Linked DNA regions of Homo sapiens: region 2 is linked to region 1. The links come from fine-mapping of genetic effects on gene expression. A gene starts in region 1. The other region holds a variant in brackets. All regions are shown on one strand. Distances are between the middles of the regions.

Region 1 (16,815 bases):
AGGTTTGAAAGTAACAGGATGAAATAAGATATATCCAAAAATGATAATCAAAAGAAAATTAACGTAGCTATACTAAGATCAAATAGATTTTAAATCAAGAAGCATCACTAGATATAAAGTGGGACAGTTAATGATAAAAGAATCAATGTAAAGGTTAAAATTTGTATGCAGCTAATAACCCATGAAGGTATAGAAAATGTAAATGCAATAACTATAGAAGTTAGAAATGTAACTTAAAATACTATTTAAAAAGGAGCCAGGATGAAGAGATTTGGAACCAAGTTCTACATAACCTCTCAAAAACATGTAATTTCTACTTAAAGACTTCAAGACTTAGGGAAAGTGGAAACTTCTCTATCATTTAATAAAGCTAGAAAAAGAAAACTTGTAAGAATCATAAACCAACCAACTTTGTCATACAAACTCAATATTCCAGGAATGTAAGACAGTATTACATTTAGAAATTTACCAAGAGAGTGAACATATCAATAGCTTGAAGAGAAAATATCAATTGAGTCTAAAAAAAGCTTTAGTTACTAGTAGAAGCAAACAAGTTAGATCATATTTTAAAATTCCAGCTAGACTAAGGATCTAAATTAAAAGAAACCACACACAAAGCAAACAAAAAACTAAACCCAAAGCAAAATAATCAAAACAGAAACACTAGAAGAAAACTCAAGAGAATATTTGTGCTGAGTCTCTGTAGGTCCTTCATTAGATCTGCCTTTTTCCTTTTTACATTTTCCGCTTGCCCCCTCCTCAGGGCACACACCTCAGACTTCTAGTATAGATTCTATGTAACTTTTTTTTATTCTTTTGTTTCCTTGTCTTCTCCTACCTTACTGTGAGAGATCTTTGAATGCATATCTTTTTCATCTTGGTCTATACAGTGCCAAACACATAGTAGATGCACATTACAAGACTGGTCAAATGTGGGGGCAGTGGCTCATGACTGTAATCCCAGCACTTTGGGAGGCCAAGGTAGGGGGATCACCTGAGGTCGGGAGTTCGAGACTAGCCTGACCAACATGGAGAAACCTTGTCTCTACTAAAAATGCAAAATTAGCCGGGCGTGGTGGCACATGCCTGTAATCCCAGCTACTCAGGAGGCTGAGGCAGGAGAATAGCTTGAATGCGGGAGGCGGAGGTTGCGGTGAGCCAAGATAGCACCATTGCACTCCAGCCTGGGCAACAAGAGCGAAACTTCATCTCAAAAAGACTGGCCAAGTGGATGGATGAATGATCCCTGCCTGGCACCACCACAATCATTCCAGCCTGCCTGCCTCCTGTGGTGATAGTCTGCCTCTGGCTCTTTCTGGCTATCTTTTGTGCAGTGGAAAGAGCATGGGCTTTGGACTCAGATTGACCCATATTGACTCCTGATTATAAGTGATATCATCCTGTGCAACTGAGTTCTCTGAAGCTGATTTTCTTTAAGGGGCTTTGTATACTACTGGGTCCGTACTCAGTGCTCAGAAACTGTTACCTTACTACTGGTGTTATCATGAAGCCTGAATGAGATGGGGGAGTCAGTGTGGCTGAGGAAAAGATGGTTGACCTTCCCAGCATTTGTCTCACCAATGGCACAGTATATTGGGGTAAAACTATGGACAGTGTATCAGGGTAAAAATAAATAGCTTCATTTGCTCCCTCTGCATTAATCTTGATTCTCCTACTTATCACGCTGACCACCCTGAAAACCTGTCTCAGTGGTCTTCAACTCTGACTGCCCCTTAGAATCACCTGGCCTCACCCTAGGCAATTAAATCAGAATGTTCCCAGGGGCATTTTATGTGTAATTGGGATTGAGTGGTTACTGGCCCTTCACTTTCTTGCTCTTAGTAGAATGAGTCCAACTTGCACAGTCCCAGAAACTACAAGCATTTTCTAGGAGCAAAAACTGTTTCCTAAGGAAGGTACAGAAAGAACAGGGCATGGTGCTGGAAGTTTAGAGTCCTAGTCCTGCTGCAAGTTGGAGACATGATCCAGTAAGCCACAATACCTCTGTATTCTGGTTTCCTCATTTATCAAATAAGCACCATAGAATCTTCTATCTCAAACGGTAATGGGAAATTTAAAATAGGAAGTAGGTAAGACTTTTTAAACATTTGAAAGTGACACAAGTGTGATTTGTTAGTGTTTCCATCAGATGTTCCCATCAGAATTCAATAAAATCCTTGTTGTGCTACTTACTGGCTGTGGGGCTTTGCACAGCTCATTTTGCTTTTTGAATCCCAGTTTTTCCTCATCTATAAGATGGAGCTACTTACTCTTCAAATTGCATAATAGTTCCCATTGCTAGCAGCAAAGAAAACAATGGGAACTAAAATACACAAGATATAGTATTATTGTGTTGGCTCTTATTATTGGTACTATTATTCCAATGCTGTGGATAAGCTCACTCAAGCCCTTGATTTCAAGCGGTGGAATCTCATAGTCTCTCATATTAGCGGATGCTGGCACTGGCGTGGCCATAAACAGGTGCAACACTCCTGCCTGCTAAGCTTTTGGATTTTAAAATGAATGTCAGAGAATCTTTGGTTACCAACCAAGCTGCTGAGGTTGACAGGTACAATTCACTTCACTGCCTGAGACCCGCCCCCTTAGCTTCCATTACCTGGGCTTTTCTGACTATTAGGTGTGTGACAGAAGATCAATACTGGCGAGAGATGAATATATGTAATCAACCTAACAGAAGCAAGTTGAAATCCTTTGGTGTGTGGTATCATAAAAGGAGGAAGGTCAATAGGGACACTGGGTCGGACTGAAAAGCAGCCTTGCCCCAAAGCAAATCCTGGCACTTTCCTCTGGCCCACCTTTTCCCTCCAAGCTACAGCACATGGTACCTTTCTCTAGAGCCCAGAGGCTTTATGTTCTCTAGCAAAGTGGTCTGCATCCTTACGTTGATCATAAGTTCAGTGATTATAAAAGTTGAGGTCTTTGGGAAACCCAAGAATTAGAGTCGTGGACTTGAAAGTAAGAAATAGGGAAAACAGCACAGTTATTTCTGACTTTTTGGCTCTACTGTTTATAGTTTTGCCTGTGCAAAGCAATACAAATTCATGTTGTCAGCCAGTGACATAAACAGATTTTTCTTTCCTGAAGCGAATCTGATAATTATGATGTTGTAACATATCTTGCACCACCCAAAACAGTAGATTGAGGATGTCAGGTTTCAGTACAACAAAATGGAACAAGTCTTTTCAGAAAGCACGAACTGTCATTTCAAATGAGACTCTGAAATATGTTGCCACTTACCTACTGATATGGTCCAAACAGCAATGATTTTCAGAAATGCCTTAGTTCTGGAGTTGAAGCGGCTGTGGTGGATGGGATTCTGGATGGCGACGTAGCGGTCCAGCGAGATGGCGCAGAGGTGCATGATGGAGGCCGTGGAGAAGAGCACGTCCAGGTAAATCCAGACTGCACAAAGCTTGCTCGGCAGAGGCCACCGGTACCCTATGAGGCAGAAGGTTGGTGTCAGTGAGCAACCCTGTGCCTCCTGGAGCACATGTATCCCTATCCTATGACAATTTCCAGCTCTGGGACAGGCACAGGTGGTGGCAAAGGGCAACACAATATATTTTTAGTATTTGAAAAAAGCCCACTGGCAACTGTACTTAACTATGATAAGCTAGCACTGGCTGATGAATGCAGGGTTTGAAAATTTCTAGTGTCTGGAGTTATGTGAGTGTGGCACGGTAAGCTTGGATGGTCTCTATTTGGGGGTTCTCTTTCTTCCCCCTTACGCCTGGCAAAACATTTCTTTTGTTAATGGCTTATGTCAAAATTTGTGTTTTGGCTCCTCTTCTGGAGCACCTCTCACACTGTACTGTCAGGATTTAGTCACATATTTCTCTGGATTGTATTTCCCTAAGGTTAGTCTCACCTCTTAGTCATTATTATAACCATCCAGTCCCATACAGTGATGGCAATAAATTGCATTAGTGCAAATGACTAAATGACTAAAAATTCAGATTGTGAATATGTCTGTTTGTAAAAATGAAAAATAATGATCTAATAATGCTTTGGGTGCCAAACTCAAATTTGGGGTATGTGTAGGGAGAGCTGAAGACAAGGGTGAAGAAAAATAAAGAAAGGTGTCCTTGCTCTGAGCTTTGTTTTAGGGAGGCATTTCTCAAACTTTAGTGAGCATCAGACTCTGCCACACCTCTTAAAACACACACTGCTGGACCTCCGTCCAGAGGTTCTGATGCAGTTAGTAGGGAGCAGGCTGTAGAATTTGCATCTGAATTAGCAAGCTCCCGGGTGATGCTGATGCTGCTGGTCCAGGGACCACGCTTTGTGAATAGCTGCTTTAGGGTAGTGGCTCTCACCCCTGGCTGCACATCAGTATCAGCTGGAGAGCTTTAGAGAAGGTCCTGATGCCCATGCCAAACCCAGCCCAATTAAATCATGTTTGGAGGGTGGGCTGAGGTGGACATCAAATGTCAAAGCGTTTGCAAAGCTTTTTCCAAGCTCCCCAGACAATTCCAATGTAAGAGATACTGCAGGTCACCTGCTATATGAGGAAGGTTAGAGTGTGCTTTATGGACATAAACAAAGTGTCCTGGTTTTGTGTTTTGGAGGGGGATTAAGCAGTTATGTAAACCTTAATTAGTTTTGATCACAGTATAAGCAGCGGAGTTAGATCTGCCTGCATGTAAGAAGGAAAATTTTAAAGTCCACTTTTCTTATTACAGACCCACAAAGCCGAACAAACTCCAACGCAAACGTACACTCTCTACCAAAATGCCACAAGGGATATTTAGACAAGTAAAGGGCGTAGGTACAAGCCTAATTTACAGCCATTCACATGTATTATTTGCAAAGAGCTTGAGCCGAAAGGAAAGCCTTTTCCTTTGCAGCGCCTTATGGGGGAAGCCACGCTCTGTCTGTTCGGAACAGATGTCGGCCCTCGGAGGGGTTTCTCTGCCAGGAGGCGGCCCAGGCCTCAGTCCGTGTTTCTGATGCGGGATAAGGAGGGGGCATTTCCTTGTGGGAGAAGCCCCATGCCCCACGCCCCGTGGGCTGGGGGAGGCTGGAGGAGCAGCCTAGGGAGGGGCGGGGCTCCGGAGGGAACGGGCTGCTCTCAGAGCGGCGGCCGCCAGGGGGCGCCCTTGCTCCCCAAGCGGGTGACGCCGGGGGTCACCCCACCCTCCAGCCTCTGTTTTGGGTCCCGCTCTGTCACTCCTCCTACCCCCACTGGAGTTTGCCCCCTAGGGGAGGGGGTTTGGGAAGCGAGAATCTTCCCCGGGATGCCGGGGAAAGGGCAGGCAAATTAAATGAAATCATTCCGGTGTGGCATTTAAATGGTCAAGTGAAGGCTGGACTTGGAATGAGTGTTACTAGCTTTGTGCAAACTGGCGCCTGCTCGCCCTTGCGTACCGCCTTCCTCCTTCACATTCTCTAGGGCTGGGTTGATGTTTTTTAATCTTAGCCCCTAAGACTTGACCAGAAAATTTCCCTTTAAAGATAGCTATCATAACCTGTCTCTAAGCTCTGAGTGACTGCTGCTTGTGCCTGTGTCAGCAGTCACAATAGTCTCTCCTTTAAGGAGGTATCTGGCTGTATTACTCATAATTTGGAAAGAATATCACATTCTGGTCCCTTGCTGAGAGGTCTGACTGTTTCAAACTCTGTTGAGAAGAAAGCAAGATTAATCCCTTCCCATTTGTTTCCCACCCTCCTCCAAACCAGACTGGAGGAGTTTATGCATATGCATTTTCAAAGAGTTGAGGATATAATTCAAAGGCACATTTCCAAATTAGCTTCTCTGGGCAGGGAACAATTAAAACTGGAGTAATTCATTTATTCTAATTGAGGTTCTGCATATTTTAACATAAAACCTATTGCACCACTAATGTTCTCTCTGCAAATGTTCCAAAGTAATTGGGAAGGCTTTATCACTCCATTAAAAGTGCTGAAAACTGTGTGACAAAGATTAAAACTGTTCTGTCCTGAAGGCTGGAATATTGGTTGGGAATATAAAGAAGCAAAAATCAAGTAGATTCAGAATGATGGGTAAGTTATTGGTTTATGACTGTATGGGGTAATTTATAAAAATTTCTACATTAAATGTACATGTTTTGAAGCACAAAACTCTCCAATGATCATTTTTACACAGGATGTACGCGTTTTGAAGCACAAAACTCTCCAGTGATCACAGGTCATAGACTGTCTGATTTTTATGTGAAATCCCATTTTAAGAGTAAAATATAAGTAACATAGTAGGCTCTAGTCTATAAACAAAGACTTCTATTTATAGTTTGTTTGCCCCCTGAGCCCCATCTCATCTGCTGGTGGCATGCACATGCTCTTTATTACCAGTGCGAATATAGCTGGGAAACTAATGCCACTCACCATACAGGATGGTTAACATGGACACGGGCATGACAAGGAAACCCAGCAGCATATCAGCTATGGCAAGTGACATCAGGAAATAGTTGGTGGCATTCTGCAGCTTTTTCTCTAGGGACACTGCCATGATGACGAGTATGTTTCCAGCAATAGTTAGAATAATCACTACGGCTGTCAGTAAAGCAGACCAGTTTTTTTCCTGGAGATGAAGTAAGGAGAGACACGACGGTGAGAGGCACCCTTCACAGGAAAGGTTGGTTCGATTTTCAGAGTCGACTGTCCAGTTAAATGCATCAGAAGTGTTAGCTTCTCCGGAGTTAAAGTCATTACTGTAGAGCCTGGTGTCATCATTTAATTGCATTAGGGAGTTCGTAGTTGAGCTCAAAGAAGTATTTTCTTCACAAAGAATATCCATGTCTAAGCCAGAACTTGTAGCAGATGAGGTGTAGAAGGACTAACAGGTTATAGTTTCTGCTCACCATTCACCTTGATGTACCCACACTCTGTAACACTGAGGCTGGTGTACATGCTGTTCTCCCGGGGCTGGATTTTTGTCTTCCATTATTACAATGATAGTTAAAGAACTGAACTGTGGTGGCTGTAAGTTTTCTTCATTCACAATTTTAGGAGAGTCCACTGTTTGGTTTTATTATTTTCTCACCAAACCGAGGACAAAAAAGCAGAATGAACTTTTAGCATAGAGGTTGCAGGGTTTTTTTTGAGCGCTCGGGAAGATAAATGTCCTGGACAAAGAAGAAAAGTTTTATAACTACTGGGACTCTTGTTTAACTATATCTCATTTTGTTGGTTATGCCGATGGTACTAGTTTAGCAACAGTATTATTAAAATAGCATGCAATCAGAAACAGTGGGGATGTACACATTCTACATTAAGAAAGTCAATTAAAAATACATCCAGTGTTAATCCCATAGTAATTGGATGTACTTTGGGTTACAGTTCTCAGCCATTCTTAAGCTGAATTGCCACAGCTGCTGTCAGGAATTTCAGCTCCTATAATGTTGCTTAGCTAATAAAAGGAAAACAAAAAAGTCTTAAGTAAAGATTAGCAGACAACTTTCCTCCCTGGAAATTCTCATTGAAATGATTACATGTTGGCCAAGCATGATTTCAAACCGGAAAGAAAATTACACAGCAATAAAATATAGCGGCATGAGAACTTACATTTGTCTTCAGGGTCCACACATGAGATACATTTGTTATTCTGTGACTCGCTGCATCTCTCACAGTAATTAAACTGGTGTAGAGTCCCCTCTTCTTGATCTTCCACCAGCATAATATGATAGTAATTTGGTTTCTGTTTTGCTGACTTCAAAAACTGCATGCAAGAGCTGAGCCAGCTCCCGCACTGCTAGGATCCTGTTGGCTTCCTCTGGCACGGCTCGGCTGGGTTCCTCCCTCCCTGTGCGGCTCGCCTCAGCAGGCACACATTTAGAAATCATTCACGAGCCCCTCAAAGTCGCACAAAAGAACTGCATGGGAAAGTAGGAAGAGCTGTCTGCACCAAGGGACTCCTGGTTTCCACGGGAATGGAGTAGCTCTCTGACTGTCTCGTTCATTTCATCAGACCTCCCTCTATGTGTATGTCATAAGCTGCAAGGTAGCAACAGCCAGGAGGGCGGACCAAACAGGCTTTTTCTTCTCCCTCTTTTTGCTACATATTAATATTGGGAAGTTTTCCTTTGCTTTTGAGAGAAACTGGAGAAATGGCCTTTTGTGCAGATTCCCATTAAGGTAGGTAAGTGGCACTGTGGTAATTTTTTAGGCTGAAGGGTGAAGAGAGAACATAAATAAGGCTAGAAAACAGTATGTCCTCGGAGTGCTGTGAGTGTCCGGCACTTCCATCCAAAGCCAACAGTGTTTGTGTCCAGAGTGGAATTACTGACATTGGCCACATAGGCTCAGGGTGGCTAGGCACGTCTGTGGTGATAACTCTGATAAACTATTAGCACTATTTTTATTTAATAGATACACCATTGAACTGGCTTATTTTCTTCAGCAGAAATATGCCACCCAGATATTATTCAAAACCTCACATGTGGTAGGAAATAAGTTGGTTTCGCAGTACCAATTTTTTTCCCCCACCAGTAATGACAACTTGCCTTACTTGTAAAGAAAGCCCTTTCCCAAGTAGGTTTCTAAAGGAGGCAGTTCGATCTCTCTCTTTTTGCAGGCATGAAAATATTTTCCTCAATAGTTGGGTTTTGCTACAGTTCTATCACCTTCTGTTCTTCACATTCTCCCTGGACAAATTCAACCACTCTCATGCCTTCAATATGTTTGTGGCCAAGTCTGTACCTTCATAGCTGATTATTTCTCTCAGTTCCAGACCTAAATCTCTAGCTGCCCATTGGCTCCTTCCATGGTAGCCTGGGAGACCTTGACCTCAGCATCTTCCCTCACTCCGCATCCCCCTGCCCGGCTCTCAGTGCTTGTTCCTACCCATTGGCTTGCATGATGGAATCACCACCTCTTCAGACAGCTGCTGTTATCCGCGACTCTTCCTTCATTCTCGCTGCCAGATCCCACTTCGTCTCCGGTGCTACCTCTGTATGCGTGTTTCTCACATGTCCTCTCCTGCAGCCTGCAGCTGGCACCCTGTGGTCGAGATCTAGCCACCTATTTCCTGGGTGGGTGCCTTAGTGCCCCCCTCACTGCCATGCCTGCCACCCTCCTACCCCTCCACGTTAAATATGCACGCTGGCGAGCAGGCAGCGGAGAACACAGACCTTAGAGTTCCTTGGTTTTGGATCCTAGCTCTATCACTCATAAACAGTAGAACCTCGCCTCATCTAGTTGCTCCCTTTAAAGCTCAGTCTTCTCACTTGTAAAATGGGATAATACCTTCCTCATAAGATTGTAGTGAAGCTAAACTGAGATAATGTGTGTAAGTATTTGGCCCATGTCTGGCTTATAGGAGGTTCTCAAGTAATGTCAGCCACTTTCATTCCTATTGATATTCTTACTGATATTAATGACACAATTGGCATCACTCCCATGCCTACACTCCTGCAGTCCCTTCCTTGTGGGGCACATAACACTTTTCTTCATCTACCTGTACCCTGCTTGCCCCACTTTGCAGGCCTGGACTCTGGTTACTCTCCCAGTCAGCCTGTATGCAGACTGAACTTACATGTTTCTGACCATTTTTATGTCTCTGTACTTGTACTTCCCTGTGCCCGGAGTGCTCTTACCATTCCTTTTTTGTGTGTGTCCATCTGGCAAATTCGTGCTTAGTTCCAGAGCAGCTCTGGATCCCAGGCCTACCACTCACCACATCTGTAAGCGTGATTAAGCTACCTAATCTCTGTGTTTTAGTCTCCTCATCCGCAAGTAGGGAACATTAATAATAAAAAGACCTCAGGATTGACGTGAAAGCCAAATAAATTTACATATTTGCCTGGCACATTTTAAGCACTCAATAAAGGTTAGTTGCTATTATTCTTACTAAGTTTACTGTTCCTAAGCTTTCTGTAGCCCTCCTTCCCAGTGGAGGCAAAGACTATAGCACCTTCTGCAGCCTTCTATTTTTAACACATCATGTCTCATGTAAGCCTCATAAAGGCAGGAACTGTGTCTATCTTGTTAACAGCTGGGCGCATAGTGCTTAAGTATGTTTGTTGAATGAATGCATGACATCTGTGTAAATGTCTGTCTTCTCTATTAGATGTTGAACTTCATTTCCATACCCTTAATATAGATGTAATCTATATTACATCTATCTTATACTATTATATTATCCACCCAGATGCAATTCATAAACCTCACATGTGGTATCTAAGCATGGTATCTCATAATGGAAGGTCCTCAACAGATGTGTTCTGACTGAATTGTTATTAGCATAAATTAAGATGAATTGATTATTAAAAAGGAGAACCAGGGAGAAACTTAGAACCTCTCATTTTTTCTTGTTACTTTGTTTATTGGGATACCAATTTAATTTTATTAAAGATAGCAGAGGGAAATGTAATATAAAAAATACTCCAGTGTCAGGAAGTTATTCAAAAGTTTTCTGAGGTTAAATTTTATAGATGTTCTTGTTATAGCTCTTAGAGAATTCTGATGATCTCAGTCCATTATTTCTCATGAAGAACAGCTAGGCTTCTAGTCATGCCAAAACTAATCAGTGTTTCTTATTATGTGGTTTACACTGGGAAATATTTTTTTGGCTACCATCTAAGATTATTTCTAGTTTTTATTGCAATTTTATGAATACTTGTTATGGACAAAGCAGTAGGGGCATAATCTAGGCTCCTGATTCTTAAACAGAGCTTCTAGGTTAATAGCATGAGGGTTAGATTAGGTAGGAATAGTTTCTTGCTGGGCAGATGCCCCTGTGAGTTTGGTGAGACGAGTGTGTGTTGGCTGCTGTAGTGCGCACCGTGATGCCTCGCCCAGCTTCTGCTTCAGGGCTGAGACTCGGGCTCCCTGCTGCTGGAAGGATTGGTGGCTGGCTCTCCACTCTTTCTGTGAACACTCCCCTCAGCCAAGGAAGCCAGCTTGCCAGTGGTCATGCCCCTTCTCTGTGGCAGCCAGCATGCAAAGACTGGTCCATTGTGAGGATATAAAGGGCTGGCCCTCTTGCCTGATGGCTGAAGAACTTTGGTTCCAGTGCTTCTATGGGATTCACTGAGGCCTTTGTTGTGTCAAATCCAAGTTAAATATCTCCCCTTGTCCAGTCTGGCTTCTCTTGCTCCCCTGCCGGTGTTGATCTGAGAGCTCGCCCCACACAAATCTCTTGCACACACATCAGTCACAGAGTCAGCTTCCTGGGGAGCTCAACCTATGACCTATCATCTTTAGCTGTGTATTAATGCCTTGAATAACATCTCTGGGTGAGTTGGATGTCTTACACAAAACAGATAAGTGTTGTCTATGTGATGATGAATGATGCTTCCTTGCCATAAGCTTAGAATTCTTCAATATACATCTGGCTTTGCTATCTAATTACTGCCAGAAGGAATTTAAGGTTAACAATACCAGAACTATATTTATTATCTTGGGCAGAATTTCTCTAGTTCTTAATTGGACCATATATAGGAATACATTTTATAACTAGTTCATTTTGGAAGATTCACTAGAAAGTGATTGCTTAAAATTAGATGTTAATATTTTCTCAATGACTTCAGTGGTATTTGTAGCCTTTGTTTGAATTTTTTTCCAGGCTAAAGTTATTGGGTTTCTGAAACTGTAGTGTCTTACATATGTCAATGTATATGAGAAAAAAAGGTTCCTTGACCAATTAAGTCTGGAACATTACTGTATCTTATAGTCTCCTCTTAGAAATATACAGTGCATAATTGCATATTAAAAGCTGTAAGAGATCCTGCAGTAAGGAAATTTGTTTATATTTATTTCATTCCTCTTCATCCAGAACACTCATTGAAAGACACTTTAATTTTGTCTAAATTGAGTTATATTTTAAATTTATTAAAACATAATGCTCTTAAGTATACAATTCACTGAGTTTGACAAATATGTACACCCATGTAACCATCACCCAAATTAAGATATCCACCATTTTCATCATTTTTGAAAGTACTCTCCTATCCTTTTTTGACTTTAACTTAAATGGACACATGTGGCCCTCCTTCCTAGTGGAGGCAAAGACTGTAGCATCTTCTGCAGTCTTCTATGTCACGCTTCTTTCACTCAACAGTGTATCTGTGTGTTCATCCATGTCACTGTGATTAAATGATTATTTAATGGATTGTAGTCTGAGAAACTGAAATGGCCTGGACATTTGGGGTTTCAACATTTATTTTTTTTCTTGTTCAAAGGAACATAGAATAGGTCCCTTTTCTTTGTTACGTTTGTCCTTTTTAAGCTGCTTAATTTTGCAAGACAGTGCCAACCTTAACCTTCACTCAATTGATTATGCCTGATTTTGTTATGAATTGGCAGCATAGAATTCTTTTACTCTATGATATTTAAGAATATGTCTCTAAGATTTCTGCTGCTCAAACATTACTAATGGCCTGAGAATGAGGAAAAAAATATTAACAGAGGGTTTACTGACTGACATTTTATCTATCACTTCCTTTTGGTGCTCTGATACTTAGGTTTGGAACAAGCCAGACCATCGGACCAATGTATATTTAGAAAACAATATCATGAACTGCCTTCTATTATGGCACTGGCTTGTATCTAAAAAAAAAAACTACTTGAAATTAGCTAATGACTGTCATCTATCTTTTTAATTTTCTCACAGTGGCACCGAGTTGAACAATATTCATTAATTTAACAGTTGATAATTGACTGCTGTGTCAAGCACTATTATAGGTGCTGAGTATAACCATGAAGATGAGCATAGTTCCTGCCTTCATTCATTCAAGAAATAGTTGGCAGTAGCATGGATGAGTACAGAGTTTAGGGAAGAGACATCAAATAGCCAATGGCATATTGGTATTTAAGGTATGCTACTAGGTGAAATCATCTAAGAGAGTGAGTGGAGATAAAGAAGGGAAGAGGTCTGAGAACTCAGCCATGGATTACTGCAATAGTTTAGGTCAGAGAGTGTGGAGGAACCTGCCAAGTAGAATGAAAAGGGGCACCCAGTGAGTTAGGAGAGACACAAAGAGAAAGTGTAATCCTAAAGTAAAAGAAAAGAAAGATGGCCAAGAAGAATGAGTATGCAACTGGGTGAAATGCCTTCTGACCAGCTGAGTATAATAAGGACTGAGAAATCACCGTAAAATTTGTCAAAATGGTAGTCTTTGGTGGCCTTGATAAGAACTGTTCCAGTGGAGTAGTTGGAATAACAGCCCAATGGAATGGGTTCAAGAGGGGAGGGGGAGGGAAGCAAGAACATCAGTTTCAGGTGAGAGATGGTGTGGCTTTCACTAGGGTAGTGCTAGTGGGTTTGTGAGAAATGGTCAGATTCTGCGTATGTTTTAAAGGTAGAGCCAACAGAACTTGATGACAGATAATGATAGGATATGGGACGTGAGAGAAAGAAGAGAGCTGCGTCACTCTGAAGGTTTTAGATCTGAGCAACTAGAAGAATGGGGCATCGTCCTTAACAGAAATAGTCAAGGCTTCAGTGGGAGCTTACTTGGGGTGATTATCAGATCAGTCTTGGATATGCTAACTTGAGGTCTGTGTAAGACAAATAACTATGTCTATAAGACACTGAGCATAAGAGTCTGAAATAGAGTACAGAGGTCCAGGATGCAGATATAAATTTGGAAACTGTCAGTATATACGTGGTGTTGAAAGCTGTGAGGTAGAATGTGATTCCCTAAATATCCGAGTAGAGGAAGAAGCAGTTTAAAGACTGAATCTGGAGCTTCTTCAACAGTTAGAGGTAAGGGGGATAAGAAAGACGTGGCAGAGGAGACCGTGGGGTTGGTGAGGAAGGAGGAAAAGTGAAGAATGTGGTGTTCTAGGAGCCAAGATAAGAAAATATTTCGAGGAGGAGAGCGACCGAATGAAATACAGTGAAGCTGCTAAGATTCATATACTTGAAGAGCATTTCATTATGTGGGAAATCGTGCACAAGCTAATGTTAAATAAGAACGAGCTCTATAGTCCATGTTCTCAACTTAAAAAAACCATGGATATGTGGTTCTAAACTAGAAGGAAGTACATTCAAATGTTGACAGTGATATTTCCTGGGTCAAGGAGTTGTGATTTTTTTTTTATTTCAATGCTGATTTCAAATTTTGTAAATATTCTGAAGTATACATGTGTTTATAAACATAAAATAATTATTTCAAAAATATTTAAATTAAGTTCAGGTAAAAGAGGGTCAGAGATGACCTTATCCTTTAACCATGGCTGAGACAGACTGGCTTTAAGGTAAAATTTTTAAACTGCTTGTTTTTGTTAGGTGTGGCAGTTGTATTATTCAGAATTATTATAGACAAATGGCAGACATCCAAGTCAAAAAGGATCAAGGGAGATGTGCAAGTAATTGACAAGTCCAAGGTGGGACTAACTTAAGGCATGGCAGGATCTAGTGGCTAAAAGGACCTTATTAGGGCTATGTTGCTACCTCTAGAATCTGCTTCCCTTTCACTGACCTGATTCTCTTCCTCTATAGGTGACTTCTTTCATGTAACTGGAAAAGGTGGTGGTTGGCAGTTCTGATTTTACATAATTGCAGGCTGTGAAACAGGATTTAACTCTGCAGTAGAGTATTTTTCACTTGCAGACGAGACCCTGGTTAGACCCACGTGCCCATCTCTGAAATGAACATGATAGCTAGGGGAATAGAGTACTCAAATTAGCCAGTCTGGGTCACCCTGCCATCCCTCTGGGCAGGGGATCAGAGCAACATGACTTACCAGCTTCACTGACACTGCAGGAAATGGACCCTTTCCCAAATAAAAATACAGGCCTTTTGTCCAGGCCTGTAAAATAATGACTCTCTATTAGCAGAGGGTACATCCTTATCTATTTTTTGTTGTGTTTTTACTCAGCTACATTGGCTCTGGTGTCTGAGTCATACTTGGTTGTTTCACGAGGCATCACAATTTTTTTGAGGTCACAGGGAGATCATTTTTTACATTTTTACTCTGGAGGTAAATAGCACTTCAGCCAGTCAGTGATCTAAAAGTGTGTTTCCCAAAATATCTAATTTACTACCAGGCATAACCTAGGTTTTGGGAGAAATGAATATATTATCACTTAGATTCTCATTACAGAGCAAGATGATTACCTTTCTTATAAGAAAAATGTAGAACTATTGGAGGAAAAATATTTTTGCTAGTCCCAAAGAATTACCCTCACACATTTTTGCAGGTGCTTATTGGTTGAATCATAAGATATTTGGCCAGGATCCCAAATTTTGTTCTGGCACCAACTGTCAGGTGTCTGTGGCTGAAGGGACATTCGAGGTACATTTACCTCTTATTCTTAACGAGGGCATGTAGTGAACCAGACGGGACCATTTGGGTTGTAAGGGTTCTGTTTTCCTGGTCAGGGCCTGGCTAGCAGCCTGTTAGATCTGTCCTCTGAGCCCATGCCAGTTCCCACTTCATGCTGTGGGGGATGGGGAGAGACTGATGGTTCAGGTACTTCCCACTGGAAAGAGGAGCCTTTTGGACCAATTTTATCAAACCAGCTCTATGAGAAAAGCGGCCTATGGGAGGAAAGAGACACACCTAAAATGAAAATAATGAGAGTTCTCTACTCAGAGGATAGATTTTTAACCTCTTTGCTGCTTTCAGTGATCTGTTAACAATATGGCCTAATGGTGTCCCTGGTCTTGACTCACGTTGATGCTCTCCCTCCTTTGTGATGAGTGGCAGTTTGGGAGAATGGAAGTCTTGAATTTTGACTTCAGGGTAGAATGGGCAGACCAGATTCTTGGTTTCTCTGCATTCCAATGGCTTCAGCAGCCACAGGTCAATCAGTATGAATATGAAATACTGCCTTCTTTGGGAGTTTCCCAGTATATCAGAAAATTCAAGTTCTCACCTTCATGAGGATACTTTTAAGAACCAAATTATTGTTCCTCTGTCCACCTGATATTGATGACTTAGGCACTTAATCCCCTCAGAGCCTTTTACCAATATCTCAGATGGGGTCCTAGAAACCACTGAAATGGATCAGAACATTATCTCAATTTAGTTGAAATTACTCTTCCTGTTCTATTTTCCATCTCAAATTATGCTTGACGGTGTTGTCCAGGATAAGGTTGTACATTGTATTTCAATATGTCTGGTAAGACATGCTCCATAATTTTGGAGTAAAAAAGATAAATATTTGTAAAAATTAATCATTTGGTTTCCTATCTGCCCTTAAAACACGATGTCTAGTATCTCCCTTTTGAAGCCCATTACTATCCCCGCTTCCCCCCAGATTGATGAAGGACTCTGGAGTCTCTGACCAAAGAGGTCAGTCCCACACCAAACCTTATGTGGAGGGGTAACTGATCAGTCCTCCATTGCCATTGCTTCTTGCTGCCACATAGTGTCTCTGTTGCAGCCTTTTCTGCCCTTTTCAAGAAAGTTGATTTGTCATGGAATCACCTTAGCTCCTTGGCATTCTGCAGTGGTTAGGTGGCCAGTACAATTCTTCATTCATACTCACGTGGTGGCCATTGGCCCTAGAGTACAAGACTATGATAGGGTGACTTGGTTCTGGGATCTTCCTGCCAGAACCACAAATACTTAGGCACCAGGAGGTTGTGAATTGTCAGAACAAGAAGGTTGAAGAAGACTGGACACTAAATTTCTAGAATCTCTGGAGGAGAAATATTCATAGAATGAGTTGGCTTTGATGTCCTTGTAGGTCCCTTCCAATCCTAATGTTTGATTCTGAGATCTAAAAAACATTTAACATTGATACTATATTGTAAATTTGATCTTTCTTTATTTCATTTTTAACTATAAAAATGCATAGTGTAAAAAAGTCAAACCATGTTGAAAGAATCTTTCATACTCCTCATATTTTATATCCTTTATTTTCTTTGCATATACAAGTGTTTAC
Region 2 (16,815 bases), 430 kb after region 1:
CACCACCTTGTCCTTGATATGCTCCAGTCTCCTTCCTCCATGTCCTCCAGCCAAGTAGCCTGACTGCTCTTCTAGAACCCACCGTACATTTCCTGTTTTCTTTGCTGTTGTTTTTCTCAGGCAGAATGTTCTACCTTTCCTTCTCTACATATCAAAATTGTATCCATATTCCAACTTAAAGCTAAATGGCATCTTTGTAAAGCCTTTCCAAGTCATCCAGTCATATTTAAGCTCTCTTTCCCATGTTTGTCCACCCTTTAATCTTCTCATGTGGTACTGCTTTCCATTCTCTTTCATATTGGAGTTAGTGGTTTCAATTTTAGGATCCCCAGCTATATGGTAATTTCCATGAGGGCATAACCCTCCAGGGCTTATATTTGCCCTCTCTATCTCCTGGGTTAAACTGCCCATCAGCACAAGGCACTCAGTGGCCAGGAAAGCTGGTGCCACACATCCTTCTCCATGCACATCTTCCTTCCTTAGACAGTTCCTGCTTCCATGCTATACATCTGTGGGCCAAGAGAAATCAACAGAGAGCAATAACTATAGCCATCTTCATCGCTTTGAAAAAAACTAATAACCAAGGAGAAGGAGAGAAATTTGCTGATACTACATTGTGGTTCTTTGATTGGGACAAAAATATAACCCCTCTACCTGTTATTACCCTCCAAAAGGTCCATAATGTACCAGCCTTAACATTAAGCAACACTTATATTAGAAGTCAAACATAAAGATGATAAGTGTAATTGCACAGTGATTCCAAGTTTGAGCAATGGAAGAGAGACAAGTAGAAAGCAGAAGGTGAGACATTGCAGGAAATGGAACGGATATTGAAGCCTGAGAATGAATCCAGGAGTCTACAGATAAAGTCTATCCTTAAAACCTAGGCTATTTAACATATTCTTCATGACAGACTCTAAATACAGATATTATTTCTGTCAATTGAAAGAATTTTGTATTTTATATCAAAAACTGAAAGAAAGAAATTCAGCCAAGCTTTAATATTCATACTTTTCTCTGGGGAAGACATACTGTCATATTGAAAGGTTTTAAGTATTTTGCATTTTTTGCATCTGATTTCATCTCCCTTCATTATTTAATATTCAAAGTGTTTCATTCTTCAATTATAAATTGCTCCTGTTTAGTTTCTTGACCACATCTCAATGTTCTTTGTAACCATTTTAATTTTTTAAATACTTGAAATAAAATAGGATTTCTTAGTATTGAATAATGGAAGGTTTTCCCTTCAGCCATACAAATCATTGTTTTATCTTTTTTATTTTTAAAATAATTGTGGTTAAGCAAGTAACTGAGAAACAGGTCTAGATATTGTGTTTGAAAGCAACATACTAGAGTTCTTTAAATGAAATTAAAAGACTAAAAGAATTTTCAAAGGACATTGTCTCCCATATGAGTTACTTATATGCTAAAACCATGTTTTCTTTTAGTTAATGTCAATTATATGATTTCCATGCTCAAAAAGAAGAAATTCAGGATTGAGAGCAATGTCAAGGTTATGCCATGAAGGAAGATCTAATTTGTAAAGGGAGGGAGAGAATTGAACCTTCTCACCTCTTGCTCTTTCATTGCTACAACCTGGAGAAAAAAAAAAAAAAACCTGATTTTTGCCCTTTAGTGTAATGGACAAGGTGGGAATAAAAGTTGGCTTTTCTTTCAGCACCTCTGTGCTTTTCAGAGAGAAATCTTCATGAATAGGGCAGTAGGGACGTCTGAATCTAGAGAACGAAAACCCTTTTCGTAGCCTTTTTATTTTCAGGGAGGGTGAAGGTGGGAGTATTGATTCTACTCAGTATAATCCGTTTGAGACAGTTCTAGTTATGTTTTTATTCTAAAAGCCTAGTAGTCATGGTATAAGAATTATCTTCCTCCAATTCTCAAGCCAATGTTTTTCAATATGTCATCCCTGAGCATTCTGGGCAAACAGGGCCATCTTCTTTAAGCCCATTTTTCTTTGATTTGGAAAAGCTTCTTAGAAGACTATCAGAAGTGAGATACCTGCAAAGATCAAAGGAAATGTGTACTTACAATGTGCTTGGTTACTCTGCTTGTTGGAAGCCTTAGTTTCCATGTTTCAGGCTTGGTTTGGTGGAAAGAATTTAAATTTGTACCTACAGATTTCATTGCATCTACACTATAAGATAGTTGGTATTATTTCAATGAAGAGGCAAGACAGAAGGTTCATTAAGGAGGAGTAGGCTTTTACCTTTTTTTTCTTAACACTCCTGTATGATACGACATGAGTACACACACACACTCCATTCAAAAAACAAAGCATCTGTTCTCTAAGAACCTGCCCTCTAAATAGGTAACTGATCACATGAGGAAGGCACAAGAACATATACTGCAACATACAAACTAATTTCCTATTTAAATAAGAATAATAATAACAACAAACCCTTATATACCATTTACCACTCAGTAGGAACTGTTTAAAGCACTTTACATGCATGTATGTATTCATTCCCCATAACAACCTTACGTAGTAAGTACTATTGGAATGTGAGTTAGGCTGAGTAGAAGGAACATGTACTCTATCTTTCTCCCAACCATAGTGCCAAGACCAAGTGAGCTCTTTGAAATTTAAGATCACAACTCTTCTTTACAAGAGATTGCTTTATTCCAGCAAAGGTGATGAACAACAGTGGCTTACAGTTTACAATGCCAGAATGTCAGTTGGTAAATTGTGCTATATAGATTTTAATTAATACATTGTCATATATTTAATTAATTTAGTTTTAATCCCCTACACCATGTTTGCATGGAGTAAGCATGCATATAGTGAATGAATGAATGAAAACTTAGTTCTGTTGGAAGAAAAGAGATTAGGAAGAGAGGACTGTCCAGGAGTCAACTCAACACAGTAAACGTTTAGTGTAGATAAGGAAGAGAGGATTGTCCAGGAATGAATTCAATAAGCATTTAATGCAGACCAAGCTGCATGTGGGGTGTCAAAGCACAGAAGGATGAGTCAGGCAGCACTTACTGAACAATGTCTTGGAGGCAGAAGTGGGAAATGAGCCCTGACATCCAGAACTCTGGAGAACACATGTGTCAGGATATGAGGAAAGGATGAGACAGAACAAGGAAAGGCCTGAGAAATTTCAGAAGAATTAACTGCATATGGTGGCATGCACCTACCGTTGGGTGTCATCTTTGATGAAATCTTAAAAATTAAGATTTAATTATGGTAATGAGTTAAACCGAAGTAGAGATGGGTTCTGAGATTTTGGTTAGAACTGTTGTCTTGCTATAGCTTTCATGTTTCTTTCTATACCCTCTGTGTTTCTAAAGAACTATGAAGTGAAGGCAAAGATCTACTCTTTTCTATTTCTATGAAAACTGTACTTCTTTTGTGGGGTTGATGGTACATAACCATGTCTAACTATGTACCACTGACGTGAGTTTCAATATGTGGTTCTCTTCACAAACAAGCTTCAGTTTTGTATGGTCATTCTCAAGACTCTACTGACATTTGCTCCATAGGACCACAGACATCAGAGTCCTTACAATGTTAGTCAAAAGTAATCTCTCTCTGTTTCTCTCTCTGTGTCTCTGTCTATCTCTGTCTCTTTATTTCTCTCTCTGCCACACACACACACACACACACACACACACACATGCACGCCTGTGCTCACACAAGTTATATAATCCTGTCCCAGGTCCAAATACTATTTCTAACTGCCTCATTGATTTTTATTATTTCAACTAAGCTATTTACAGGTATCCTAAGCACTTTATAATATTAAATACCACAAAATATACTGATATCATATAATCTAATTGAGGAGAAAAATATATATGTTAAGTTTCAAATGCATAATGAATATAGCATTTTATACTAATGTATGTTTCTGCTTTTAAGGAACTTTCTTATATGTTACCTACTTTGATCTTCAAGCAAAGGTTGATGGGAAGTTAAGGTTGATGGGAAAATTATCAATATCCCCATTTTAGGGATGAGGGGCTGATGCAGGGAGTTAATAACCAGCACATGATTACATAGTTAGTATGTGATATGGTTAGGAACCAAAGCCTTCATAACATCTTCTGAAATATGATCCACTGTTTCACAATTGCCCCATTTGTCCTTTGAATAGGACCAGGGAGAGACAAATGCTGACATTATAATAAAGAGATTCTGGGTCACAGGACTTGGAACCACACCGTTCTATTGGGAGAGGAAAGCAGAGTGGGGAATCTGAAAGTGAATGAGGCCTGAGGCCAAACCAGAGAATGGCTGAGTGGGAATGGGGCCATTGCAGATTGAACAATGCTGAGTGGACATGGGAAAGGTACCAGCTGGAAATGCAGAAGGCAAAATGGGTAGCTATTCCGGCCAAATAGGTACGTGATTGAAGCAGGCTGAATCAGTAATTGAAAGATAGGACTTTCTTCCAGGAAAAGATTTCACATCTCTGTCCTACCAATAATAAGACCCAAGAGGGGCCACATATTAATCAGATGACTAAGTACATGTATAGCTATCTAAAGCTTGGGCAAGCCAGGTTTAAGAAAGAGGAGAAATTCTCCCTAAACTGATTCAACACAAAGCCTATCAAAATGCCAACAGAAATGAAGAAGTAAATCCCACATTTTATATAGGATGCAAAGGATCCAGAATAGATAAAACAATTTTTTAAAAGAACAATAAAGTTAGAGGACTTTCACTTCCCAATTTCAAAACTTACTCTAAACTACAGTATTTAAAACAGTACAGTGCTGGCACAAGAGTAGACATATAAATCGACAGAGAAGAATAGAAGTTCAGAAATAAGCCCTTATCTCTGTGGTCAACTGGTTTTTTGCAAAAGTGCCAAAGGGATTCATTGAGGGAATAAATCATCTCTTCTGCAAATACTGCTAGGATAATTAGGTATTCACAAATGAAAAGATTAAAGTAGATCCTTACCTCACACCATGCACAAAAAGAGTACCCCAAAGGGGATCATAGACCTAAATATGGTGGATAAATTTACAAAATTTTTTAGAAGAAAATCTTTATGACTTTGAGTTAAGCAACATGTTCCTGATATGACACCACAAACATAAGCCATAAAAGAAATAAAATGATAAACTGGACTTCATCTCATACTTTTAGATTGTATTTGACAGTTCAGTAGGATCCAACAAAGGAGAAGTGTACGTTCAGTCAGCTTGCTGCTTGTCCTCTGCTCTGCTCTGGGAAAAAAACAAAAAACAAAAAAACAAAAACCCAAAACACAGTAATAGTAATTGTAGTAGTTTCCTGTAGCTGCTGTAACAAGTTACTGTGAAACAGAGGACTGAAATGTCACAAATTTATACCTTACAGTTTTAGAGATCAGAAGTCCAAAATCCATTTCACTGGGCTAATGCCAAGGTGTCAGCAGGGCTGGTTCCTTCAAGAGGCACTAGAGGACAATCTATTTTCTTTCCTGTTTCAGCTTCTGGAGACCACCTACATTGCTTGTTCAGGGCCTTTTCCTTCTTCAAAGGAGGGAGCATCACAGCACCTTGCAATTCTCTGTCTCTGATGTCTGCTGGCTTTATCACATTGCTTTCTCTCCTGCTTCCCTTTCTGACCCTTCTGCCTTCCTATAATAAGGAACCCACCTGAGTAATCCAGGGTAATCATGCCATCTCAAGATACTTATTTTAATCACATCTGCACTGTTCCTTTTGAGATGTAATATATTTCACAGGTTCCAGGGATTAGAACGTGGACATATATACATATATTTTTTGGGGGGATGTCATTATTCAGCCTATTTCATTCATTAACAGTATCACCAAAAATATTAATTCTGAAATTACCCAGTGTATCAATTCTTTTAGATGATACAATAAGATAAATGTAATAACATTTTGATATATATAATTTAATCTTAATAAATTGTCTCTTTTGAAAGAAATGTGTGTGTGTGTGACTATGTTGCTGTGTGAAGGAGACTGTCAGATTTGAGAGCTGATTCTGCACTTTTAGTTTGATACTAAGAAACTAAAAATACCACTAAATGCAAATTACAGATATAGGGATCATGGTGTGAATGGACTATCACATTTCTAGTCCTTTTGAGGAAAGGCTACACTTTTGGGTAATTGTAGGACACCAGCTGGCAGAATATTTAGAACGACATTATTTCTTTATTTTTTTAATTTTCTTAAACATCTGGTGCCTTCTAGATTTTTATGTCAGAGAATTTTAATTTTTTCTTGAGTTCTTCAAATAATTACTCCTGTCATACATTCACAGCTTCAACTTGATTTCCTTCCTAAAATTTAAGATTATTTTAAATCCTTGTGTTAAAGTTTGTGAATCTCTGATATAATAATTTAAGGATGCACTGATTACATTTCCCCTAGGTTAACAATTTAATAGTGTCCTACTGAACAGAATAGGATCTACTTAGGAAAAGTGACGTGAGTGATTTTAGAAGTTTGAAGTTTTTAACATGTCTCCTGCCATTCCATCCTATACCTAGGGGTAATTATTATTCCCCAAGGAGAAATAAATTCATCTATTCACTTTTATTTATATCCTGCTTTGTTAAAAAGCTTTATGAAATTTGTTTTGTTTTGTTTTCATTCGAAAATATGTGTCTAGGGCAATTACATTTGTTATAAAAATCTCAATGACACTTTTAAAGTTTCTCCTTGAAACCTTCCAGCTCAGAAGTGAAAAAAGCTTCCAGTAGTCTTTAGAGCCACATTTTGAACTCAGGTGTCTATAAACCATCTCAAATAGTGGATTGGAGTTGGCACATCAATGATAGCTAATATATTGAGTGCTCTCCTGGACACCAGCCTGGTACAGTGTGGACTCCCTTCACTACCCCTGAAATCCGTGTATGTCCAGCGGGGTTCTAGCACACTCAGTGCCAAGGGATAGTGGGTGCAGTGCTCCCAGTGGGTTACGCCTGCTCAGCTGGTGCTGGGAAGTTGATATCCACTCTGTGGTTGGGGGATCCCATGTGGCTAGAGTCTAAACTTCAGCTCGACGTGAAGTACTTTGCAGGCATTATCTTCGTTAATCTCATAACTTTCTTATGAATAGGCATCATAGCTATTCACATTTTACAGGCAAGGATGCTGAGATAGATCTGAAAATAATTTCTCTAGTCTCTGGAATGAATTCAAGAAATTCTCATTCACTATTTTGGCTCTACTTTTCAATATTGCTTAAAAACATGGATGTGGGGTCTGTCTGAATTTCAAACGTGAGTTGAGCACTTAATAGCCCAGTAGCCTTGAGCAAGTTACTTAACTGCTCTATGCCTCAGTTTCCCCATTTGTAAAATAAAGATAGAAACAGTGCTTTTCTCAAAGGATTGTCACAAGATTGCCCGAGACAGGACATGTAGATTACTTGAAACAATGCCTGACACATTGTAAATATTAACTACATCTCATTTTTATGTTTTTTAACTCATTCTTTGTATTATATTTTGTATGTGATTTTTTTTTGCAGTTAGAAAGTAAGTTCCCTGAAGAAAGGATTCTGCCTTATTCATCCTGAATGTCTTGGAG[C/T]ACCTAGCACAGAGCAGTCCCTCAATATTTATTTTGTTTGTGATTTATTTTTTCATTCACATTATGAAACACAGTTTCTGTCCACATTAAATTTATTACCATCAGAAAAGGTCCAAACTTGTCTTCATACAGCAGGGCAACAAAATTAAATAATGTGGTACCTGCTAGACTGAATAGGAACGCTGTGCTGTGTATTGATGGATGGTCTGAACAGATTTCATGGGAAGAGAGGACTATTTATCTGCTGACATGCTTTTATTGGCTCCTGCCATTGTTGGTGACACTTCTCTTGCATAATAAACTCTCACTAATTATAGGCAAATAACATTTTTTTCTTAGCCTGTTTCATTAATTTATGTGGAACTCCTTTTTTCAAAATCTGTCCTAAGCAAAAGAAAATAAGATTTTGGGAAGACAGCAAAGTAATTAAAGCCTGTTGAAATAGCTTGATGCTAGAGATAGAATACTTTGAAAATATTCAGAGATACAGATTGCCACATCTGAGTGGTATTCATCCAAGGAAGCTATGCAATTTACTAATTAGTTTATCAAGTCACTGGCAGTTGTTTTCTAAGGTCAACAGAAAATTAGAAAATTGTTTTGAGCATTTGAAAGGAACCAGATCTAGTTCTAATATATACTCCCCCCAAAAAAGTTGATCCAGGCAATTGGTTCAGTACAGGAGGGCTTTTGGAACATTTTGTTTGCTTTGTACACTGGAATGAGAACAAAATGAGGTAATTCATTTAATGGTGCTTTGAAAAATGTTATTGCAGACTTCATTGTTAGTGTATGTAAAGCACTATTATTACTAGAAGAAATCAGCCCATAAACCCTAACAATGATAAAACTGATATTAGGGACATGTTATTTAATTCATCAGGATTAACTAAACAATTTATAATAATTTCTTATCACCTGTGATTCTATATTGTGCCTATAATAACAGCACTGGTTACCATTTGTTGAGTACTTACTATGCACTGGATCCTTTACATTTCACACCTCATTTATTACTCACACTATTTTTGAGAATTATAATTTCCATTTTACAGGTGAAGAGCTATAGGTTAAGAGAAATTAAGAGGTTTGCTCAAGATCACACAGCGCAGAAAAGTCCTGGGTCTCTTAGACCTTCAAACCCATGTCTAACTGCTCCAGGTCCCTGCTCTTAACTTCAAACCACACCATCTCTTGCTCTTCACTTTAGGCTCCACAGAGACCCCTACTTCTGTGGACTGCCCATGCTGATCCTTGGCCCTCTATATTCCTTGTGCTCTCTTCTTACTTTTAGTACTACACAGTATAATTGTTTATAAAAATCAAAGTGATCTGAAGTATTAGACTTTTTAAAATCCCTAATAAGGCATCATAATATGTGTTCTTCAAAACTCAATAATACAGGTGTTGGGAAACTCAAAGGTAAAATGGAGACCAAAAGTGCTTTACCGTCACAGAAACTAATCCTCAGTGGTGGACGGAAAAGCAATATGTGACACATTAACTGTGACACTTATAGGCCACCTCCCTGTTCTCTGAAAAAGAAACATTCCATTCCGTATTAGTTCATTCTCACATTGCTATAAAGAAATAGCTAAGACTGGATAATTTATATACCAAAAAAAGGTTACATTGGCTCATGTTCTACAGGCTTTACAGGAAGCATGGCAACTTCTGCTTCTGGGAAGGCCTCAGGAAACTTACAATCATGGGGGAAGGCGAAGGAGAGGCAGGCCTATCAAATGGCAAAAGTGGAAGCAGGCCAGAGGAGGGGCAAGAGAGAGAGAGGGAAGGTACTATACACTTTTAAAAAACTAAATCTCGGCCAGGCGCAGTGGCTCACGCTTGTAATCCCAGCACTTTGGGAGGCCAAGATGGGCAGATCACCAGGTCAGGAGATTGAGACCATCCTGGCTAACACGGTGAAACCCCAGTGAGCCGAGATCGCGCCACTGCACTCCAGCCTGGGCGACAGAGCGAGACTCCGCCTCAAAAAAATAAAATAAATAAATAAATAAATAAATAAAATAAAATAAAAACTAAAAAACTAAATCTTGCGAGCACTCACTCACTATTGCGAGGATAGTTCCATGGGGGAAATCTACCCCCTTGATCCAATCATTTCCCACCAGGCCCCACCTCCAACACTGGGGATTACATTTCAACATGAGATTTGGGTGGGGATACTCTTTCTTCTCAAAAGAAATCATTAAGTATGGTCATATTTGTTATTTTTCATAAAACATGGATATCTCATTTTAGTACTTAACAGACTCTTAAAAGATCACAAATAGCCTTAAGTTTAAAAACGAGGCTCAAAAGATTTGTACCAAGTACAAGGTCATAAAGATGCCACATAGATGTGTTCATATGCACCTCCATCAAGCAAGCACAGTTACATTATGACTTTAATTCATTCACATATTTCTGCATTCACTAGTTCCATAAATATTTACCAAGTCCTGGCTAAGTGTCATGCACTGGGCAAAGTCCTGGAGAGTCACCGTCTTACTCCTTAAATGCTTAGCACCTGGGGAGTGGATACCAACATGAAATTAGACAATATCAAATCTGGGTAATAAGTGATAAGCAGGGAAGTATAGGGTACCTGGAGAGTAAACTGAAGGGCCATGTTACCCATCTAGAGAAGGTGATGTCAAAGCTAGGCCTAAAGAATGAGTGGAAGTAGCCAGGAAGTGACAATAGCAAATACATGTGTCTCAATACCCAGTGATGGAAACTCTGGCTCAGAGAAGAGACAGGAATCATTCCAGCCTTCTGACCCTGCGAGATGTGTAGAAAGGATTTCACGTCTGCTGAGAATATAGACAGGAGTAAAGAGGAATCTTTTGAAAGTGATACCAGGAGTTATATCATTCATTTCGAGAATTAGCGAGAAATCCAGGTGAGGAAAGCTTAAGGGATTTAGGCCCACGTTTCCATCAGACGAGTAGCTTGGGTGAGATGCAGATGTTTTGCATTTGCAAATTTTTCTCAAAAGAAGACACACAAATGGCCAAAAGGTATAAGAAAAAAATGCTCAGCATCACGAATCATCAGAGAAATGCAAATTCACAGCCGCCGAGGTACGGCATCCTAGGGTTGGTGGATGAAGTTAGTCTCATCAAGTCTAATTTCTCAGTATTCGCAGCGCTCAAATGTGAGAGTGAGACTGTCGCTATGGGATGCATAAGTGATCTTCACCGGTAGCTAGTCTCTCATCCCTGGTACATTTTGCCATAGTGAATGCACTGGTTATGTGCACATTTGTTTCCTCCTTGGATGCATTCTTTTCTCACCAGGGGCTGATTCTGACCATCTGTAGCATCTGAACTCCTTTCTCTCTGGCTTCCAAATTATTTCAATGAAAGAAAAATACTGCCAGAAGATCAGAAGTTGGGAGGAGAAAAGGTTTTGAGTATCTCCCCTAGCCTCTTACCCAGCTTTAGCACATGTGTCTCTTTACGAGCAGCATCTGCCGGCAAACCCTCCCCCGTGGCTCTGGCTCCCACTGGGCTACAGGAACACTATTTCTTCCCTCTACTCCATCAGCCTCAGGACTGGTAATGGGTTTCTGGAGTTGTTCATCACTGGTGACTCAACATCTGCTGTTTGTCCTTTACCCCTGCTTATACTTCTGTAACTATTCCTTCATTAAAATCTCTATTTTCTGCCAGAATCCTGACTGATACAGTGACTCAACAGTGTTAACTCTGCTTCCTATTTTATTTTGAAGATGAGGGAACATGTGGTTCTGGGACAAAATGCCAAATGGCTTCTGAAGTTTTAAAGCAACACAATGCAGTCTGACCAAAACTTTGATCTTCTAGAAGAGAAATAGACTAAACCATTATTGTCAGGTGCCATAATAGATGTAGTTAACCTTTATAACATCACCATGATGCATAATGCACCCATTTTATAGATTATAGTATTTTTAAAAATTAAGAAACATGCTTAGTATCATGCACTTAAAAAATGACAGAGATAGGGTTTTAAACTGGGTCTACCTGACTCCAATGTCTATGGTTTTTTACATGAGCTGCTCCCACATAATTCACAAACTTATTCTTCCAATTTGAAATCTTGCATTTTGGTTCCACTTTACATAATTATCTACAACTGGATGTTTCATTGTCACCTCAAGAGTGAAATCTCTCTACCTCCTATTCTCTCTGTCTCTTTCACTCTTTTCTGCTGCCCCAATGTCCCAACTTAACAGTGTTTTCAGAGTCTTGTTTGCTTTTTCCACAATGTGAGAAGCTCAGAGATTTCTGTTTGTTGTCACATCAGTTTGTTGTCAAGACCCCAAAATGTATCCCAACAAACTGAGTGGTGCCTTCGGCTGTGGCTCCTGCCCAAAATGAAGCAAACATCCCTTTTCCTATTTCTTTCTTTTTTTTTTTTTGAGACGTAGTCTCACTCTGTCGCTCAGGCTGGAGTGCAGTGGCGCGATCTCGGCTCACTGCAAGCTCCGCCTCCTGTGTTCACCCCATTCTCCTGCCTCAGCCTCCCGAATAGCTGGGACTACAGGTGCCCGCCACGACTCCCGGCTAATTTTTTGTATTTTTAGTAGAGACGGGGTTTCACCATGTTAGCCAGGATGGTCTCGATCTCCTGACCTCGTGATCCACCCGCCTCAGCCTCCCAAAGTGCTGGGATTACAGGCGTGAGCCACCGTGCCCGGCCCCCTTTTCCTATTTCTTTGTACGTTTTCCCTCTATATACTTAGTTCTCATCTAAAAATGCCAAGATTTTAAGAAGATCCTTACCCACCTCGTTTCTCTTCCTTCTCACTTTACACATTTCCAACCATTAATAATTCTTCCCCCTTTTCTATCCGGCCTCCTTTCCCATCACTAAACTCCTCATATACAACTAATCAGAAAACGTAGGGAGAGAAAATACCTGCAAACCACACATCTGATAAGGGATTAATATCTAAAGTATGTTGTATAAGGATTTCAATTCAATAGTAAGAAAACAACTGATTTTTTTTAAATGAGCAAAGGACTTGAATAGACATCAAAAGAAGATATACCAATGGCCAATAGGTATATGAAAAAATGCTCAACATCATAAATCATTGTAGAAATGCAAATTACAACCACAATGAGCTATTACATTACACCAGTTAAAATGGCTATTATCAGACAAAAGTATTAGGGTTGGTGAAGATTTGGAGAAAAAGGAACCCTTGTACATTGTAAGTGAGAATGTATGTTAGTATAGTCATACTAATAAATAAAACTGCATGAGGTTTTCTCAAAAAATTAAAAATGAAACTACTATAATTCAGCAATACTACTACTTTTTATATATCCAAAGAAAATGAAATCTATATGCTGGCAAAATACATGTACTCCCATGTTCATTGCAGCATTATTCACAATAGCCAAGTTAAAGAATAAATCTAGTGTCCAAGAGATGAATAAAGAAAATATGATATACTTTATATACAGAATGGAATACTATTCATCCTTTAAAAAGAAGAAAATGCAATCAATTACAACAACATAAATTAACCTAGAGGACATTAAGATAAGCGAAATAAGCCAGGCACAGACTGACAAATATCACATGGTCTGACTTATATATGGAATAAAAAAAACTGAATTCACAGAAGCAAAGAGTAGAATAGTAGTTACCAGAGGCTGGGGGTAGGGAAATTAGGTATAAGTTGACAAAAGGCACAACGTTTCAGTTAGACAGTAGAAATAAGCTTAAAAGATCTACCTTACGGTGGCTATAGATGATAATAATATACTGTATACTTGAAAATTGCTGAAAGAGATTTTCAGTTTTCTCACAACAAAATAACTGTGAAGTGATGCATATGTTAAATAGATTGATTTAACCTTTCCAAAATGTATACATATATCAAAACATCATGTTATACACCATAAATATACACAAGCTTTAGTCTTCAGTTTTAAATGATAAACAAATTCTATATAATACAAAGAATATGTTTATAAAATCTAGAGATATGCCATACAAAGAGACTGGGAGACTCAATAGTGCTAAGATATCAGTTCTCCTCAAATTGGTCTATAGATTCAACAGCATTCCAATCAAAATTGAAACACTGATCTCAAAATTCATATGCAATGCAAATGGCTAGAATAGCCAAAACAATTTTGAGAAAGAACAACAGAGTTGGAAGACTTATTACATTTGATTTGAAGACTCATTGAAAAGATGCAGAAATCCAGGAACTATGGTATTAGCATAAATATAACTATATAGTGATCGATGGAACAGAGTAGACAGCCCTAAAATAGACACAAAAATGCTATTTGGAACAGTACCATGGCATTTCAATATTGAAAGGGTAATCTTTTCAATAAGTGGTCTTGGGAGAACTGCCTATTCACATAGACACAGATAAACTTTGATGTCTACCTCATATCTATGATGTATATGAAAATTAACTCAAGATAGATTATAGACCATAAATATAAATGCTAAAAGCATCAAACATTTTGGAGAAAAAATATAGTAAATATTTTGACAACCTTGGCATAGGAAAGATATCCAGTGACCCAACAGGCATTAAGCTTAAGAGAAACAAATGATATAATGGACTTTCTCAAATTAAAAGTTTTTTGTATTTAAAAATATTGTTACAAAACTGAAAATGCAAACAACTAAGCTGCAAAAGATGTACTTGTATATGACAAAACAACTCATATCCAGAATATATAGACAACTTCTCCAAAGTAATAAATAATATTTGATTTAATAAATAATAAAACAATATTTGAAAGACTTGAATAGACTTTTCTCAAAAGATGATAAAGGTAGTCAATAAGAACATAATCATAAGCTTTATATTATTAATCCTAAGGTAAATACAAATTAAAAACATGAAATATCAGTTTCTATGTGCAAGACTGGCTAACATTTTTTAAAATGACCATATCAAATTTTGGCAAGGATGTAGAACTGGAACTCTCATATTTTGCTGGTTGGAATGTAAATGGTAGAACCATCTTGAAAAATAATTTGGGATAGGAGGTGGCGAGGAAGCAGGACTAACTTGCAACTCCCACTAAGACAGACAGAGCAGCATGTGGAGAACCACATCACGAACTTTCGCTCCAAGAACTACAGTAGGAACATACCAGGAAAGCCGTGAGAATTCACAGACCCTTTGAAGGAGGTGGATTGCTGCTGCAGTCTCTGTGGGACAGCTAAGGAACTGTGAGTCAGCTTGCTTTCTCAGCTGGGAGGCTTGTAGCCTGAGACAAGTTCTCAGCCGAGCTCAAAGGCTGCCTGGAAATAAACTTGGTGCTGTTGTGGAGGGCATGGTGGGAGTGAGACCAGCCTTTCAGGCTGTGGACTGCATGGGAGCTGCGTGAGGCCTGTGGCTCCTGGCTTTCCCCCACTTCCCTGGTAAGCTGTGTGATGCAGCAGAGGTGGCCATAATCCCTCTGGAAACATAAGTCCATTGGCCTGGGAAGCACACTCCCATCCCCCACAGCAGCTGCAGCAAGCCTCACCCAAGGAGAGTCTGAGTTCAAACAGGCCTAACCCTGCCCCCACCTGATGGTCTTTCCCTACCAGCCCTGGTAGCCAAAGACAAAGGACAAAATCTCTTGGATGCTCTATGGCCCTACCTACTGCCTGATCCTCCCTATGCTACTGCAGCTGATGTGCCTTTCAAAGCGCCACCTCCTGCCTGGAAGCCAACCAACACAAAACCAATACACTAAGAAAAGTACAACCAAGGACCCTCACAGAGTCCACTTCACTCCCCTGCTACCTCCACCAGAGCAGGTGCTGGTATCCACGGCTGAGAGACCTGAAGAGAGATCACATCACAGGACTCTGCAGACACTCCCCAGTACCAGCCTGGAGCCTGGTAGCTCTGCTGAGTGGCTAAATCCAGGAGAGGAAAAATAATCACTGCATTTTGACTCTCAGGAAGTCCCATCCCAAGGGGAAAGGGGAGAGCACCACATCAATGGAGCACCCCACTGGAAAAAAGAATCTGAACAGCATCCTTTGAGCTGCATATCTTCCTTCTGACATAGTCTACCCAAATGAGAAGGGACCAGAAAAACAATTCTGGTAATATGACAAAACAAGGTGCTTTAATGCCCCCAGAAGATCACACTAGCTCACCAGCAACAGATCCAAACCAAGACCAAACCTCAGAATTGCCAGAAAAAGAATTCAAAAGGTCAACCATTAAGCCAATGAAGGAGGCACCAGAGAAATGTGAAGTCCAACTTAAAGAAATCAAAAATATGACACAAGATATGAAGAAGATCTTCAGTGAAATAGCATAAATAAAAAACAATCACTACCTCTGGAAATGAAGGATGCACTTAGAGAATTGCAAAATGTGAAATCGCCTTTGCAAAATTATAACTGAGGAAATAATGACAATGAAAGAAATCAGACCTAACCAACTCTGTCTTGCTTTTAATCTTTAAGCTGTCCTTATTTATTCCTGGGCATAGGCCAAACTAACTTTGGGAAGGAATTCAGTTCACGCTTTGACTCTGAAACAAAATTGATAACAGCCCTTTCCTCAAAAGACCCCCTTCTTGCCTGGGGACCAGTCTGACTTTGCAGGACTAACAAATTAGCTACAAGGTTAGAAATTACAATTTAGGGGTCTTGCAGCCTTTGGCTCCAATAGTCTGAACCTCCCCAAATTGCTCTTGGGGATAACAACACTACTGTAAAACCTAAGATCAGTGCTTGAGATATTTTTCAGACCCTGCACTCAGTGGATCAGCTGACACAACCCAGACTGGTAATCTGGCTCAACCGTTCTGCCATCCCACCCAGGGACAAAAGACAGCAAGAAAACTTCACTTGGACCCCCCATGATTCCATCTACAACCTGACCAATCAGTACTCCTCACCTTCCAAGACGCTACGCACCAAATTATCTTTAAAAACACTGATCCCCAGCGTTCTGGGAGACTGATCTGAGTAAAAAGAAGACTCTGGTCTCCCACACAGCATGAGTTACTCTTTCTCCATGGCAGTTCCCCTGTCTTGATAAATTGGTTCTGTCTAGGCAGCGGGCAAGGTGAACCCACTGGGCAGTTACAAATGCACTGAAAAGTCTCAGCAATTGAATCAAACAAGTAGAAGAAAAAACTTTAGTGCTCAAAGACAAGGCTTTCAAATTAACCCAATCTGACAAAGACAAAGAAAAAAGAATTTTAAAAATGAACAGGGGCCAGGCACGGTGGCTCATGCCTGTAATCCCAGCACTTTGGGAGGCCAAGGTGGGTGGATCATGAGGTCAGGAGTTTGAGACCA

Direction of the effects. Positions count from the first base shown, and alleles are read on the strand shown. Sizes are in standard deviations (SD) of each study's normalised expression.
In carriers of allele C in region 2, the expression in sigmoid colon of the gene that starts at base 7,922 in region 1 tends to be lower than with T alone (small effect, 0.32 SD a copy in GTEx).

The links. PIP is the estimated chance that this variant, and not a neighbour inherited with it, causes the effect. A credible set is the group of variants that fine-mapping cannot tell apart.
Region 2: its variant is the best candidate, but not a certain one, in a credible set for the expression of HTR2A in sigmoid colon (GTEx, PIP 0.56).

What each region holds. Positions count from the first base shown.
Region 1 is chr13:46,889,132-46,905,946 of GRCh38, forward strand. It overlaps HTR2A (5-hydroxytryptamine receptor 2A), which reads right to left and starts at 7,922. Exons shown (of 4, transcript NM_000621.5): 1 at 7,543-7,922; 2 at 6,364-7,103; 3 at 3,259-3,459. The coding sequence starts at 6,775. RefSeq lists a silencer at 5,023-5,232.
Region 2 is chr13:47,323,249-47,340,063 of GRCh38, forward strand. No RefSeq gene overlaps it. Among named protein-coding and RNA genes, the nearest start is that of HTR2A, 430 kb to the left of the region's middle. The variant C/T (reference allele first, on the strand shown) is at 7,528.